Linked DNA regions of Homo sapiens: region 1 is linked to region 2. The links come from fine-mapping of genetic effects on gene expression. A gene starts in region 2. The other region holds a variant in brackets. All regions are shown on one strand. Distances are between the middles of the regions. Region 1 overlaps DDB2 (damage specific DNA binding protein 2). Region 2 holds the start of DDB2 (damage specific DNA binding protein 2).

Region 1 (8,325 bases), 22 kb after region 2:
AGTTTGAGAGAAAAACTGTGAGCTGAGCTCTTCTGGCTGAATAGCAGGATCCCTGAAGCACCCTCCTAGTCAGCCTCCCAGTCCAGTGGTTTGAGGGACCAGAAGAGCTCCTGGTTGTGTTTTTTCCCCCAGTGTTCAGAAGGGGGCAGAAGTGCTTTTCTAGCCAGCTCTGAGGAACAGGGCCAGGCAATCCCTCTTTGGCTTGTGTCTCCTTTGGCCTAAAGGGTGAAGAGTGAAAGGAGAGAGCAGTAAAGGAGGCTTGCTCAGAACCCGGGGTGTGGGGGGCAGGCGTGCCTCAGGGCTTGCTTTATGGTATAAGCTTTGTCTGCTTCAGGGACTTTTAGGAGCTGGGGATCCTGGGCCCAGCCATAACCAGACAGATTTCTGAGCCCCATTATCCCATCCCCTCTGTCTGGACGGTAGAGCAGTCTGAATGTTCCTCACTAGGAATCCACGGCAAGACAGTTATTCATTCATTCAACAAATATTTATTGAATGCCCGCTGTGGGTTAGTCACCGGAGCGGCAACAGTGAGTAAATAGGACTATCTCTGTCCCCAAGAATCTTACAACACAGTCTCTCCCTCCAGCATCTGGTTTTGTAGCCTGGATGTGTCTGCTAGTAGCCGAATGGTGGTCACAGGAGACAACGTGGGGAACGTGATCCTGCTGAACATGGACGGCAAAGAGGTGCGTTCTCCGAGGTCCTGCCTTTCCCTCCCTCACCCCCACCTCGGTTCTGTGTCCCCACCTGAACCGAGCTCTTCTCTGCAGCTTTGGAATCTCAGAATGCACAAAAAGAAAGTGACGCATGTGGCCCTGAACCCATGCTGTGATTGGTTCCTGGCCACAGCCTCCGTAGATCAAACAGTGAAAATTTGGGACCTGCGCCAGGTTAGAGGGAAAGCCAGCTTCCTCTACTCGCTGCCGCACAGGCATCCTGTCAACGCAGGTGTGATATCCCAGACCTCATCTCTCCTGCAGACCCTGCCTGTCTGACCACTGCTGGGGTTTTCCCTCAGTGTGGAAGCCACTACGTCAAACCTTTACCCCTGATAGCGTCTGCCAAGCTGATGTCTGGGAACCTTTGTGGCTGTGGCTGTCCCCATCAGCTGCTGAGTTTCCAGAATTTTTTTGTTGTTGTTCACAGCCCAGATTCACCTCTTCCTTTCCGCTCCTGTCTAGAGAGGAGTGGGAGGGAGAGTACCCCTGCAGGAGAAGGCCTGCAAGGCCAGGACCACAGAGGGCTTGTGGTTCCTTCAGCTCAGGGGCTTTTCACTTTGCCAGCTTGTTTCAGTCCCGATGGAGCCCGGCTCCTGACCACGGACCAGAAGAGCGAGATCCGAGTTTACTCTGCTTCCCAGTGGGACTGCCCCCTGGGCCTGATCCCGCACCCTCACCGTCACTTCCAGCACCTCACACCCATCAAGGTGAGTGGCGGTGGGAAGGAGCTCGCAGAAGGAGGCTGTGATCATGAGGCCGGAGCAGGTCTGCCCACAGTGGGGAAGGGCTGATGTGGTAAGCCTGCCACCCCAGATCGCTCCTGGCCCGAGCACAGAGCATCTCTTACCCATTGGCTCTCTCTCTTCCTTTTATCCCACTTCTGCCATCCCATATGGTTGAGTTTTCTGTCTCGCTGATAAGATATTTTTCTGAGTTTTTTCAGCCCAGCTCTGATCTCACTGTGAGAATTTTCTAAGATCCTGACCCTCTGTTCTGTCTTCTCAGCTTCAGTTACCTGTGTACAGTTGACCCACAAACCTTCATTTTTTATTTTTTTATTATTTTTTTTAAGGCAGGGTCTCGCTCTGTCACCCAGGTGGGAGTACAGTGGGGCAAGCATGGTTCATTACAGCCTTGATCTCCCAGGCTCAAGCGATCCTCCTGCCTCACTTTTTTTTTTTTTGTAGAGACAGGGTATTCTTGTGTTACCCAGGCTGATCCTTTTTTTTTTTTTTTTTTTTTTTCTTGAAACGGTCTTGCTCTGTCACCCAGGCTGGAGTGCAGTGGCACAAACATAGCTCACTGCAGCCTCAACCTCCTGGGTTCAAGCAATCCTTCCGCCTTAGCCTCGGAAGTAGATTGGACTACAGGTATGCGCCACCATACCCAGCTAATTTTTTTATTTTTTATAGAGATGGGGTTTTGCCATGTTGCCCAAGCTGGTCTTGAACTCCTAGGTTGAAGCCATCCCCCAACCTTGGCCTCCCAAAGTGCTAGGATTACAGGCATGAGCCACTGCGCCTGGCAACTTTGCCTTCTTAGTTTGTCTTGCAGGTTTCAGTGCTTCTAATAATAAAAATAAGTCTTTTATTTTCCCACCTTTTCTCAGGCTCTTGTTAATAGCTTCTCTATCATTAGTCCCCAACACTAATAGCTTTCAAGTCCTTTGATGCCTTTTTGCCTAAGCCCCCATGCAGACTGAGCTCTGCTAGTTCTGCATTCTTTTCCAAAACTACAGATCCTCTTCAGATCTTCAGGTTTTATGCCTATACTTCTCTGGTCAGTTCAGAATAGTGGTGGGGAGCGCCAGTTTCCAGCAGCCAGACCCCCCGGGTTAGAATCCTTGGGCAAATTACTTATATTTTGGATCTGTTTCCTCATCTGCAAAAAGGGAATACTAGTCTCTAACTGATAGGGTTGTTGTGAAGATGAGTCAGTATACTTAAAGCACTTGGCCCCATGCCCAGCACCTGGTAAGTACTGGTAAGTATTCAATAAATGATGATTGAATATTGAGTGGCCCCCACGTACCTCAATCACATCCAAGCTCTTAATAAATAATGTCAAGAATCCTTCCCCAGTTGGTGTTCCTGTTAATCCATCAGTGTTCCCGATAATCCATCTGTCTGCATGTCCCAGTTTGTATCTAGCCAGGTGTCGTAAGTCATTACAGCTTCCTGTGTGTGATTTGTGACTTATTTCTAAGCCTTCGCATGTACTATTTCTTCCTTCCTGCTAACCATGTCTTTCTTCCTTCAAAACTTCCTTGAGAAGTTTAGGAAAATCCCATCCAATTCTGCCATTTTAATAACTGCCAGATTTGTTTTTAGTGGGGTGATCTGGGGAATGTGGGTTTCCTTCTCTTTTTTAGCCATTAGCAATTTTACACTCAGCTCTTAGTTATTCGTGTTGATGGAGACAGGATGACAGTGGGGCTCCTCCAGAACTCAAGTCCTGTTAGGGTTTGGTCACCAGAGGCTTTTTCTGCTTTGTTGTAGGCCTCTTAGGTCAGTATCTGGGTCAGGCTGATGTTAAAACGTTTACCAGTTGGTATGATCTTAGGAAATGCAAATGAGGGAGAAGGCCTGAAGGTGCCCTAAGGGCCAGGGAGGCCAGCTAGGGATTAAAAATGTGCAATGGCAGAGGCACACACAACCTAAAACCATTCTTGTAGTTTTCTGTAAGACTTATCTCCATTATTAGGTTGGCTTGTTACTGGCAAATACTACTTTTTTTTTTTTTTTTTTGAGAGTCTTGCTCTGTCACCTAGGCTGGAGTGCAGTGACATGATCTTCACTCACTGCAACCTCCGCCTCCCGGGTTCAAGTGATTCCCCTGCCTCAGCCTCCCAAGTAGCTGGGACTACAGGCATGTACCACCACGCCCAGCTAATTTTTTTTTTGGTATTTTTAGTAGGGACGGGGTTTCACCATGTTAGCCAGGATGGTCTCGATCTCCTGACCTCGTGATCCGCCTGCCTCAGCCTCCCAAAGTGTTGAGATTACAGGTGTGAGCCACTGCACTCAGCCCAAAGAATACTTTTGATGTTCCTCTTTGTTCATATTTGTTTTTGATGTCCCCCTTGATCATGTTCTGTGTTTACCCTCATGGCCGGCCTCTCCATCTCCTAGGCAGCCTGGCATCCTCGCTACAACCTCATTGTTGTGGGCCGATACCCAGATCCTAATTTCAAAAGTTGTACCCCTTATGAATTGAGGACGATCGACGTGTTCGATGGAAACTCAGGGAAGATGATGTGTCAGCTCTATGACCCAGAATCTTCTGGCATCAGTTCGGTGAGGCTTGGGTCCTCAAATAATGATGGGAGGAAGCAGGGATTCAACCTACCTTATTGACCAAAAGTGACCAGAAATCAGGTGTCTCTGCTAATACCTTCACCCTCTCCTCATG[T/C]TGACACTCTTGTCTCTGCAGCTTAATGAATTCAATCCCATGGGGGACACGCTGGCCTCTGCAATGGGTGAGTAGGAGGAGAATGTCTCTGACTTGCCAAGTCCGATCCTACTTCCCAAGGTTCAGTGCGGGCCAGCCTCAGCCCCGCCCTGCCACATTCACCCCAGGGCAGTGGCCCACGAAGAAGATGGCTGGGAGACAGTGGTCTCTATAGCCAAGGCCCTCCATTCCTCTGGCTTTGTCTTGGTCATGCAATGCCTGGCTACTGTCCAGTTTCCTAGTATTTCTTTTTTTTTTTTGAGACGGAGTCTCGCTCTGTCCCCCCGGGCTGGAGTGCAGTGGCGTGATCTTGGCTCAATGCAAGCTCCGCCTCCTGGGTTCACGCCATTCTCCTGCCTCAACCTCTCGAGTAGCTAGGACTACAGGTGCCCGCTACCACGCCCAGCTAATTTTTTGTATTTTTAGTAGAGACAGGGTTTCACCGTGTTAGCCAGGATGGTCTCGGTCTCCTGACCTCGTGATCCGCCCACCTCAGCCTCCCAAAGTGCTGGGATTACAGACTTGAGCCACCGCGCCCGGCCTTCCTAGTATTTCTTTACCAAATTGTAGGTTTGCGGGCCAGCCCCAGGCTCTGAGAGATTGGTAACAGAAAGTGTAAGTCAGACTGGTCTCACTCTTCCTAGGTTACCACATTCTCATCTGGAGCCAGGAGGAAGCCAGGACACGGAAGTGAGAGACACTAAAGAAGGTGTGGGCCAGACAAGGCCTTGGAGCCCACACATGGGATCAAGTCCTGCAAGCAGAGGTGGCGATTTGTTAAAGGGCCAAAAGTATCCAAGGTTAGGGTTGGAGCAGGGGTGCTGGGACCTGGGGCACTGTGGGACTGGGACACTTTTATGTTAATGCTCTGGACTTGCCTCCAGAGACTGCTCCAGAGTTGGTGACACAGCTGTCCCAAGGGCCCCTCTGTATCTAGCCTGGAACCAAGGTTATCTTGGAACTAAATGACTTTTCTCCTCTCAGTGGGTGGTAGCAGAGGGATCAAGCAGTTATTTGATTTGTGCTCACTTTTGATATGGCCAATAAAACCATACCGACTGAGCTTCTGCGTGGATCTTCCAGAAGTGACCTGGTCAGAGAGCTTCTTGCGTCTCAGAAATGAAGAAAAAGCACAGGAAACAGCACTATCAGTCCAATAGGAAACAGCACTATTCATTCTCTGGGAGCTGCCCCAGCCCTATTCTGGGCCACAGTCTAGAACTTTCTTTTCCAGCTCACAACCTGCATGTAGCTCAGGTCCCTGGAGACCCCAGCCCAGCTGAGGGAGAGCAGTTTCCTGATTCGTGTGACAAGCAACTCCCTTCCCACCACTCCCTACTCCCTCCCAAGTACAGACAACCTTCCGTCCTGCTCCAGTTGAAGGGGTGACAACGATTCCTGAAGCATTCTGTCTGAGTCTAATGGTGGCTCTAGCCAGACACAGGGAAATGTGGCTGGCTGGCTGTTGGGTGATCCAGTTCCTTGGGAGCCAATGTTTGTACCCCTGGTATTAGCTGTTTTTCCCACTAAAATAAGCACTGAGAGGCAAGACCGTGTCCCTCTGAGCTATTTGCCGAAGACTTCAGGCTGGAGGAAAAAGAACAGGGCTTGATAGAAGTGCAAGGTGGATCCAGCACCAACTCTGCCATTTTCTAATCCTAGGTCCTGAGTGAACACTGACTGCCAGTTTACATCTCAGGTGTGTAGGGAGCGTGGAGGAGGCAAATCCTGTTTGGAGAAAGCCAGTGTCCAACACAGCACTTGGTAAACATCAGGCATGGGAATGCTGAGTGACAGGCACCATGGGCCACGCTGAGCCCCACTCGCTCATCTGGCTGGGGTCATCAGAGGGAGGCCCAACCCAGGATCTCCTGTCCATGGGCTGGGGAGCAGCAACAGTCAGGAGCGAGGGCCCAGCCCACCTCCCCTAGGAGGTGGAGGGAAGGGGGCTGAGTGGTTGTCAGGCGTGGTCCTCCCCATCTGCGACGTGGCGGTAGCCAGGAGGCTGGGCCTGCATCCGGAAGAGGACGGTGAGGAGCAGCACTATGAGGAGGAAGAGGATGGAGCCACATACAGCCAAGGCCACAATCACCTCTGGGCATGGGGGAGGCAAGAGAAAGGTCATGTCAGCGTTCCATCATATGCCAGCTACTGTTCTGACATATAGGAGATACACAGAGGTGGCCAAGACAGAGTCCCTGCTCTCATGGAGTTTACATTCTAGGAGAGGGGATGTAATAAATAAGCAAATGGGCTGGTCACAGTGGCTCACGCCTATAATCCCAACACTTTGGAAGGTTGAGGTGGGCAGATCACCTGAGGTCAGGAGTTGGAGACCAGCCTGGCCATCATGGTGAAAACCCATCTCTACTAAATAAAGTTGGCCGTGCGCAGTGGCTCACACCTGTAATCCCAGCACTTTGGGAGGCCGAGGTGGGTGGATCACCTGAGGTCAAGAGTTTGAGACCAGCCTGGCCAACGTGGTGAAATGCCGTCTCTACTAAAAATACAAAAAATTAGCTGGGCATGGTGGTGTGCACCTGTAATCCCAACTACTCGGGAGGCTGAGGCAGGAGAATTGCTTGAACCTGGGAGACAGAGGTTGCAGTGAGCCGAGATCACGCCACTGCACTCCAGCCTGGGTGACAGGATGAGACACCGTCTCAAAAAAAAAAAAAAAATTAGGAGTGACAGGTCAGTGACGAATGTGATACAGAGAGACAAAGCAAAGTAGGTCAGCAGGGAAGGCATCATTGAGAAAGTGAGAAGTTTAACAGAGACCTGGAGTCAATGAATGACATACAACAATCTGAGAAGAGTATCACAGGGCAGAGGAGACGAAGGGCAAAAGGCCCAGATGTGGGGATAAGCCTGGCACATGCTAGTATCATCAAGAGTCAGTCTCACCAGAGTAGAGTAAGCAAGGGGCATGTAGGAGATGGGGCAGGAGACCAGATGGAGTAGGGCCTAGAAGGCCATGGTGAAGAACTTGGATTTTATTCTATATGTGATGGGAAGCCACTAGAAAATTCTGAGAGGACAGTAGTATGAACTGGTTTACATTTTTTAAAAGTTAACTCAGTCGGCCGCGGTGGCTCATGCCTGTAATCCCAGCAATTTGGGAGACTAAGGCGGGCGGATCACCTGAGGTTGGGAGTTTGAGACCAGCCTGACCAACATGGAGAAACCTCATCTCTACTGAAAATACAAAATCAGCTGGGCATGGTGATGCATGCCTGTAATCCCAGCTACTCGGGAGGCTGAGGCAGGAGAATCACTTACACCCGGGAGGCGGAGGTTGCAGTGAGCCGAGATTGCGCCACTGCACTCCAGCCTGGGCAACAAGAGCAAAACTCCATCTCAAAAAAATAAAAAAAGTTAACTCTGCTGTGTTGAAAGACTGGTAGGGACAAGAATAGAACCAGAAAGAACTAGGAAGCTTTTCATTCGGTCAGGCAAGAGCTGACGGTAGATTGGACTGCGGAGGCAAGAGCACATATTAATATTTGAAAGGTTGAGCTGATCTGGCAGTGGGCTGGATGAGGGGTATGAGAAACGGTATGCAGAATGACCCCAAGGGTTATACTGTGCCACTAGGTGACTCGTGGCATTGACTGAAACAAGGAAGCCTGGAAGAAGAGCAGCTGTGGAAGGAAAAGCATCTGGTTTTAGACATTGCAACTTTGAGATGCCTTACTTAACATGCATGTAGAGATCTCAAGTTGGCAGCTGGATATGAGTCTCTAGCTCAGAGAAGAGGTTGTGAATCTGTGAGTCAGGGCGTAAGGACAGAAGTGGGCATGGAGATGGGCATAAAGTCATGAGGCTGCATGAGATCACTTGGGAGTGTGCACAGATGGGGAAAGCTCCAGGGATGAGTCCTGGGTCATCCGTTCTTTAGTGAGGAAGGGACGCCTGAAAGTCAGAAGCCAAGAAAGTGTTTCAGGAAGGGGTGACCAATTATGTAATGCTGCTGAGAGGTGAGAGAAGCTAAGAATTAGTCACTGGCTTTGGTAGGAGGTGACTGGTCACCAGACAAGTATGGCTTCAGGGTAGTGGAAGGTGACACAAGACTGTCTAATGTGAGTCTAAGAGAACAAGTGGTGAGGAAGCAGAGCCAGATTCTAGGCAGCTCTTTCAAGGATTCCATTCT
Region 2 (8,325 bases):
TTACAGGCATGTGCCACCATGCCCTGCTAATTTTGTATTTTCACTAGAGATGGGTTTTCTCCATGTTGGTCAGGCAGGTCTCGAACTCCCGACCTCAGGTGATCCGGCCGCCTCGGCCTCCCAAAGTGCTGGAATTACAGGCGTGAGCCACTGCGCCTGGCCAATTTTTATTTATTTATTTAGAAACAGGGTAAACCTCTGTCATCCGGGCTGGAGTGCAGTGGCACAATTGTAGCTCACTGCAGTCCCAAACTCCTGGGCTTAAGCGATCCTCCTGCCTTGGCCTCCCAAGTAGCTGGGACTACAGGCGTGTGCTACCGCACCTAGCTAAGTTGTGTATTTTCTAATTTTTTAGACAGGGGTCTCAGTATTGCTGAGGCTGATCTCCAACTCCTGGGCTGAAGCGATCCTATCCTCTTGCCCTCTCGAAGTGCTGAGATTACCAGCATGAGCCACCACACTGGACCAAGAGTTGATTTTGGTAACATCTTCTGTCCCTATCTGTCTGAAAAATCCTTGAGAGTAGGATCTACCATTAATGCATTAAACAAATTATTATTTTTTGTTTGTTTATTTTGAGATGGAGTCTTACTCTGTAACCCAGGCTAGAGTGCAGTGGCGCTATCTCAGCTCACTGAAACCTCTGCCTCCCAGGTTCAAGTGATTCTCCTGCCTCAGCCTCCTGAATAGCTGGGATTACAGGTGCGTGCCATGATGCCCAGCTAATTTTTTATATTTATTTATTTTTATTTTTATTTTTTTGAGTTGGAGTCTTGCTCTGTCGCCTAGGCTGGAATGCTGTGGCATGATCTTGGCTCACTGCAGCCTCCCTCTCCTCGGTTCAAGCGATTCTCCTACCTCAGCCTCCTGAGTAGCTGGGACCACAGGCAAGTGCCACCACGCCCCAGCTAATTTTTGTATTTTTAGTAGAGACGGGGTTTCACCATGTTGGTCAGGCTAGTCTCGAACTCCTGACCTCAAGTGATCTGCCTGCTTCATCCTCCCAAAGCGCTGGGATTACAGGCATGAGCCACTGCGCCTGATGGTATTTTTAGTAGAGAAAGGGTTTCACCATGTTGGCCCGGCTGGTCTTGAACTCCTGGCCTCAAGTGATTCACCTGCCTTAGGCTCCCAAAGTGCTGGGATTACAGGCTTGAGCCAATGCGATGGCCTACCATTAATGCATTTTTGTATATCTCCTCCCACCCCCACAAACTGTCAGGCACGGGGCTTAGTGGGTGGAGGAAAGGCCCAGCAATGCCTGAGTAAGCCCAACTCCTGCCTGCCTCTTCGCAGAAACTAGGGTGCATCCAAACTGTCTCTTCTCAGGCTAGGCAGGACAGCGCGGCCTCACCTGTGAACCTTCAAGACTTGGACTTTGGCTGAAGCGAGGGCGTAGGAGTTCTAAGTACCGCTGGCTGCACGCCCTCTGGCCCATCACGTCCCAGGCTGCTCCTAGGTGGACACCCAACAGGTTAGGCAAGTCTTAGTTAAAAGCAGTGAGAGGCCAAGAGGCTGGGCATGGTGGCTCACGCCTATAATCCCAGCATTTTGGGAGGCCGAGGCAGGCAGATCACAAGGTCAGAAGATCGAGACCATCCTGGCCAACATGGTGAAACCCTGTCTCTACTAAAATACAAAAAATTAGTCAGGCGTGGTGGTGTGTGCCTCTAGTCCCAGCTGCTCCGGAGACTGAGGCAGGGGAATCGCTTGAACCCGGGAGGCGGAGATTGCAGTGAGCCGAGATTGTGCCACTGCACTCCGGCCTGGGCAACAGAGTGAGACTCCGTCTCAAAAAAAAAAAAAAAAAAAAAGCAGTGAGGAGGCTGGGCACAGTGGCTCACACCTGTAATCTCAGCACTTTGGCAGACCGAGGTGGATGGATGCCAGGAGTTCTAGACCAGCCTAGGCAACTTAGGGAGACTCTGTCTCTACAAAAAATGCAAAAATTAGCTGAGTGTTGCGGCGCGCACCTGTAGTCCCAGCTACTCGGGAGGCTGAGGTGGGAGGATCGATGTCCAGGAAGTCCAGCCTGCATTGAGCCCACATCCTGCCACTGCACTCCAGCCTGGGTGACAGAGAGAGGCCCTGTCTCAAAAAAAAAAAAAAAAAAAAGAAAGAGAGAAAGAAAGAAAGAAAAAATAAAAACAGCCAACGACCAAACAAATAAAAGAGCAGTGAGAACCAGACACGGTGGCTCATGCCTGTAATCCCAGCACTTTGGGAGGCAGAGGCAGGAGGATCACTTGAGCCCAGGAGGTCCAGACCAACGTGGGAAACATAGCAAGACCTTGTCTCTACAAAAATAAAAATAAAAAAATTAGGCTTGGGGATACAGGTCTGCAAGCCTACTTGGGAGGCTGAGGTGGGAGGATCAGTGAAACTTGAGGTCAAGGCTGCAGTGAGCTGTGATTACATCACTGCACTCCAGCCTGGGTAACGGAAGAGAGACACTGCCTCTAGGAAAAAAAAAAAAAAAAAAAAAAAAAGGCAAGGAGTTCCAATCATTCTCCCTTCACAGAGAAGCAGCTTGGATTCGATGGGACTGTAGTTTCTGGAATCCGACTGCAAAGCTGACCGCTGGTAGAGCCCAGCTTCTAACTTAGGAAAGGCACTAGCTCTCTACAAAGCCGCCACTCCCCAACTACACCCTGTAGGGACCAGCCAATCCCAAAGCCCGAGCGGGCGTCATCACCAATTGCAAGGCGGGAGACAGAGCCTTGGCTGGCACCGGGCCTCCTCCCCGGACCCGCAGAGGCCTGGCAGCGCCGCGTTTGAGGAGGGTTCGTGTCAGGAAGTCAAGGCTGGATGATCGCTTAAGCCCAGGAGTTAAAGACCGGCCCGGACAACAAAGCGAGACCCCGTCTCTCCAGAAAAAGAAAAAAAGAGAGAGAGAGAGAGAAATTAGCCGGGCGTGGTGGCGTACGCTTGTAGTCCCATCTACTTAGGAGGCTGAGGTGGGAGGATCGCTTGAGCCCAGGAGGTGGAGGCTGCACTGAGCTATGATCGCCCCACTGCCCTCCAGAGTGAGCGACAGAGCCAGACCCTGTTGCTAAAAAAAAAAAAAAAATCCATAAAGCCGGGGACCATCTTTGCTCCAGGGAGGTCAGCTGACCCGGGCTGGCACTGGCCCTGGCGCAGTTCCCGCCCCTCCCGGGAGCGCTGGCACCGCCCCTTGGCACCACCCCCTCCCCGCGCCCCCGCCTTCCAGGAAGGGGCGGGGTCTCCGAGACGGGTGGGGCCGGAGCTCCAAGCTGGTTTGAACAAGCCCTGGGCATGTTTGGCGGGAAGTTGGCTTAGCTCGGCTACCTGTGGCCCCGCAGTTTTGTAGTCCCCGCCTTGTTTCTCCCCAGAGGCCTCTCAATCCTCCCTCCATGATCTTCGCATAGAGCACAGTACCCCTTCACACGGAGGACGCGATGGCTCCCAAGAAACGCCCAGAAACCCAGAAGACCTCCGAGATTGTATTACGCCCCAGGAACAAGAGGAGCAGGAGTCCCCTGGAGCTGGAGCCCGAGGCCAAGAAGCTCTGTGCGAAGGGCTCCGGTACTGCCTGTGCCTGCTGCTTGAATATTTCCGCCTTTTAGGGTGCTCGCGCAGGAGGCTGCAGCGGGGGATGGGTGCTCCGAGGCTCCCGAGGCCCGCGCAGGTCACGGGTGCCTCCGGCTGTGCATTCTACCTGCAGGTCCTTTGACACCAGAGTGTTTAGGTTTCAACACCTCTCCCGCTAGGTAACAGGAAGCAGATGAGCTCCGTAACAACAGACACACGGACTTGTCAGATTCCTTGTTCGTATCAGGGTTCTTGCACAGTTAGGACGGCTTCAGAGAATCCTACCTTTCCTGGCGCTGTGTGTGCTGGATTTCATAGTCACGCTTGTTAGCTGCACGTCCTCGGTGGTCAGTTGTGAGAGCCCCCAATTCCTTCCTCCTTAGAAAGCTCATTCTCTGAGGTTTACTGGGGCTTGAACCTGGGGCTATAAGGAGTTTCGAGACACTCAAAAACGAGCTGGGGCTTGTTAATCAAGTGGTTTTTGTCCATGAGAAGAAAGAATTGGTTGTCAAGACGTCGGACCTATAGTGATTGGGTCCTCAAATACAGTTTGGTGATCAGGAGTTGTTGCTTTATTGCTATTCTAATTTCACTTACCTCCCCAGAAGTAACCTAGTTAAGAGCATTTCCAGGCCTTCCTATTCCTTCTTTTCCTAAACGGTGACTTCTGCCATGCTGCCCTAAAATCTTTTTATTGTGCATTATATGTGATTTATAAAATTGTGACCCAGTCCCATCTCGAGTTTTGCAGCCCAAACTGGGAAGAGTTCTGCATTGTACTTTATCCTTGTGTGTTTCTTTGGCTGGGGTCTCAGGAACCCTGCACGACTGTATTTACTTTCACTTCAGACTTACTGTTTGTGGGAGTGTTTTGGGGAAGGGGCCAAATCCTCACTCATTTTTTTATTTCTGGTGCTCGTTGAGACCACACAGACATGGAAAGGCCGCAGGAGGTGATGAGACAGAGATTAACCGTGCCGAATGAAACAAGGCTTCCTTTCGGGGAATTCAGCAGAAAAACCTTTCGTGAGATTGGAGAGGAAAATATGTCTGTTCTGCTTGGCAGGTCCTAGCAGAAGATGTGACTCAGACTGCCTCTGGGTGGGGCTGGCTGGCCCACAGATCCTGCCACCATGCCGCAGCATCGTCAGGACCCTCCACCAGCATAAGCTGGGCAGAGCTTCCTGGCCATCTGTCCAGCAGGTAAGGCATTTTTTGCCTCAAGTCCTCAAGGGTTTACACGTGCATTTTTACTATTGCATGCTCCCAAATTAGATGATGGCTTGGTTCACCAGCTTGTCAGAGTGGTCCGATCACCCAGACTGTGGTGACTGGCCTACTGGGCACTCAGCCAGGTAAAAAATGTCTTATGTTGTAAAGGTCCCAGCTGGAATGCACTCTGCCCCTTTTGCTTTCCAAGATTATTCGTTCGTGTACATTGCAAATATTTTCATGCACAGGGCAGGCAGTTAGCTTTCCTTTGGTGGGAGGACTTGGATCTAGGGCTCATCCATGAAGGAGGCAGAGATTGGCAGTTTACCCAGAACTTGGGTTTTAATTCAACCTAATTCATTTCTCTCTGTGGCAGGGGCTCCAGCAGTCCTTTTTGCACACTCTGGATTCTTACCGGATATTACAAAAGGCTGCCCCCTTTGACAGGAGGGCTACATCCTTGGCGTGGCACCCAACTCACCCCAGCACCGTGGCTGTGGGTTCCAAAGGGGGAGATATCATGCTCTGGAATTTTGGCATCAAGGACAAACCCACCTTCATCAAAGGGGTGAGCAGTTCCCCATGCCAGGTCGTGCTAAAGAAGTGTTTGTTGGCTGGGTGCAGTGGTTCGCACCTGTAATCCCAGCACTTTGGGAGGCCAAGGTGGGTGGATCACCTGAGGTATGGAGTTTGAGACCAGCCTGGCCAACATGGTGAAACCCCGTCTCTACTAAAAATACAAAAATTAGCTGGGTGTGGTGGCAGGCGCCTATAATCCCAGCTACTCAGGAGGCTGAGGCAGGAGAATTGCTTGAACCCGGGAGGCAGAGGTTGCAGTGAGCCAAGATTGCACCATTACACTCCAGCCTGGGCAACAAGAGTGAAACTCCATCTCAAAATAATAATAATAATAATAATAAAAGAAAATAAAAATAAGGAGTGTTTGTTGAAGGCATGAAAGGAATATTGATGTCATCCAGTAATCATCAGGAAGAGGACTGGGATCAAAATTAACTGTGGGCATTTTCAAATACGTAAATGATGATGATATATATTTTTCTAATGCCTGTCCTTAAAATACTAGAAGATATAGACTATTGATCACCCATAGAATTGAAGCCCCTTCTGGGCTGGGCGCAGTGGCTCAGGCCTGTAATCCTAGCACTTTGGGAGGCCAAGGTGGGCTGACCACGAGGTCAAGAGATGGAGACCATCCTGGCCAACATGGTGAAACCCCGTCTCTACTAAAGATACAAAAAATTAGCTGGATGTGGTGGTGTGCGCCTGTAGTCCCAGCTACTTGGGACACTGAGGCAGGAGAATCGCTTGAACCCGGGAGGCGAAGGTTGCAGTGAGCCGAAATCACGCCACTGCACTCCAGCCTGGGCAACAGAGCGAGACTCCATCTCAAAAAAAAAGAATTGAAGCCCCTTCTTACCACATTGACCTCATCTTACGCCATTGTCTTTTCTCACTTCTATGCTGTAGCCACACCAGCTGTTTCTATTCCTGAAACCGGGTCTCTGTAATTGCTGTTCCCTTTGACTGGAGTGCTTTTCCCCCATGGTCTTCTCATGGCTGGCGTCTTCTCTGCAGGTCTTTGCTGATTCTACCTCTTCAAAGAGGCTTTCGCTGGTTGTCCTTACTCATAACGTAGATCCCACTCCTCCACCGTCATTCCCTGTATCATTACCCTGCTTCATGTTTCCCCCAAGTGTTGATGGGTGTCTGAGATCTGATGCTTATTTGTATGTTTGCCCACTGATGGCAGGGACCTTTCCTTTCTGGTTCACCATCCTATTCCCAGTGCCTGGAACAAAGTTTGGCCTAGAGTAGCTGCTTTATATTTGTTGAATGAGTGAGGGGCTTGAAGTGTAATTGAGCAGATGGGATGTATACATACGAGGTAATTAACAATACAGATGCCAAGTGCTACAGAATGTGAAAGAAGGAAGAACCCCTTGTGAATTGGAGTCAATAAAGAAGACTCCATGGATGAGCGAGGAGGAGCAGTATTAGATAAATGGAGAGAAAAGAAGGAAAGACATAGTGTGACTGGGTGAGGTTTGGCACAGAGTTCTTGGGAATGGTCTTTGTTGTGCTAGAGTTTATCATCCATTGCTGAGGGGTGAGTGTGTCGTCCCCTCTAGGACCTTTAGCCAGCCCAGCTGGTGGCTGACATTGGAGGGCTGTGCTGTGAAAAGTGACACTGGGTTTAGAGCAGGAGTCACAAACTTATAGGGCTCCAGAAGCCAGAGTGGAAAAAAAAAAAAAAAGAATGTATGGTGGTAGGGTCAGGGGTAAACTAGAGATGACTGTTGTGCAAAAATGTAGGTCTTTTGATATCAGATGTGATTTTTCTCAAACAAAGACACAAATCCTCATTTTTTAAATGTCATATATCTTGAGTTTTAAAAAAAATTGTAAAATACACGTAACATAAAATGTATCACCTTAACCATTTAAAAGTGTTTTTTTTTTGAGGCGGACTCTCGCTCTGTCACCCAGGCTGGAGTGCAGTGGCGCAATCTTGGCTCACTGCAAGCTCCGCCTCCCGGATTCATGCCATTCTCCTGCCTCAGCCTCCCCAGCAGCTGGGACTGCAGGTGCATGCTGCCACGCCTGGCTAATTTTTGTATTTTTAGTAGAGATGGGGTTTCACCGTGTTAGCCACGATGGTCTCTATCTCCTGACCTTGTGATCTGCCTGCCTCGGCCTCCCAAAGTGCTGGGATTACAGGCGTGAGCCACCGCCCCCAGCCAACTTTTTAAAAAATAATGATAAAATACATATAACATGAAATTTACTTTCGTAACCATTTTAAAGTGCACAGTTCAATGGCGTTGGGTAAATTGTGTAAGCAGTCTCCAGAACTTCATTATTTTTTTTTATTTTTATTTTTTGAGTCTCATTCTGTCACCCAGGCTGGAGTGCAGTGACACAACCATAGCTCACTGCAGCCTCCACCTTCCTGACTCAAGGAATCCTCCGGCTTCAGCCTCCCATGTATCAGGGACTACAGGTACGCACCACCATGCCTGGCTAATTTTTAGAGATGTGGTCTCTCTATATTGCCCAGGCTGGTCTCAAACTACTGGCCTCAAGCAATCCTTCTGTCTTGTCTTCCCAAATTGCTCGGGATTACAGGGCTGAGCCACTGTGCTGGGCCTCTAGAACGTCTTAATATTGGCACTGAATGAAACTAAACACACGTCTCAGCCGAATTCTGCTTCAGTCCACTATTTTTCTAGCTCTGGTTTAAAGGTAGACATGAGGGGGAACCCAGGAGGAGGTCTCTTTATTTATTTATTTGTTTATTTTTTTGAGATGGAGTCTCACTCCGCCGCCCAGGCTGGAGTGCAGTGGCGCAATCTCGGCTCACTGCAAGCTCCGCCTCCCAGGTTCACGCGATTCTCCTGCCTCAGCCTCCGAAGTAGCTGGGACTACTGGTGCCCGCCACCACACCCGGCTACTTTTTTTATATTTTTTAGTGGAGATGGGGTTTCACCGTGTTAGCCATGATGGTCTCGATCTCCTGACCTCGTGATCCGCCCGCCTCGA

What was found. PIP is the estimated chance that this variant, and not a neighbour inherited with it, causes the effect.
Region 1: its variant is fine-mapped to the expression of DDB2 in prefrontal cortex (BrainSeq, PIP 0.95).

Annotation. Positions count from the first base shown.
Region 1 is chr11:47,233,984-47,242,308 of GRCh38, forward strand. DDB2 (damage specific DNA binding protein 2) reads left to right here. Exons shown (of 10, transcript NM_000107.3): 5 at 590-689; 6 at 774-951; 7 at 1,287-1,429; 8 at 3,854-4,018; 9 at 4,155-4,200; 10 at 4,817-5,234. The coding sequence ends at 4,866. ACP2 (acid phosphatase 2, lysosomal) reads right to left here. Exons shown (of 11, transcript NM_001610.4): 11 at 5,319-6,266. The coding sequence ends at 6,133. Among named protein-coding and RNA genes, the nearest start is that of ACP2, 11 kb to the right of the region's middle. The variant T/C (reference allele first, on the strand shown) is at 4,134.
Region 2 is chr11:47,211,718-47,220,042 of GRCh38, forward strand. DDB2 (damage specific DNA binding protein 2) reads left to right here and starts at 3,257. Exons shown (of 10, transcript NM_000107.3): 1 at 3,257-3,546; 2 at 4,619-4,755; 3 at 5,141-5,332. The coding sequence starts at 3,420. RefSeq lists enhancers at 1,861-2,697, 2,698-3,533, 2,740-2,979, 2,821-4,020, 3,310-3,589 and a silencer at 3,050-3,259.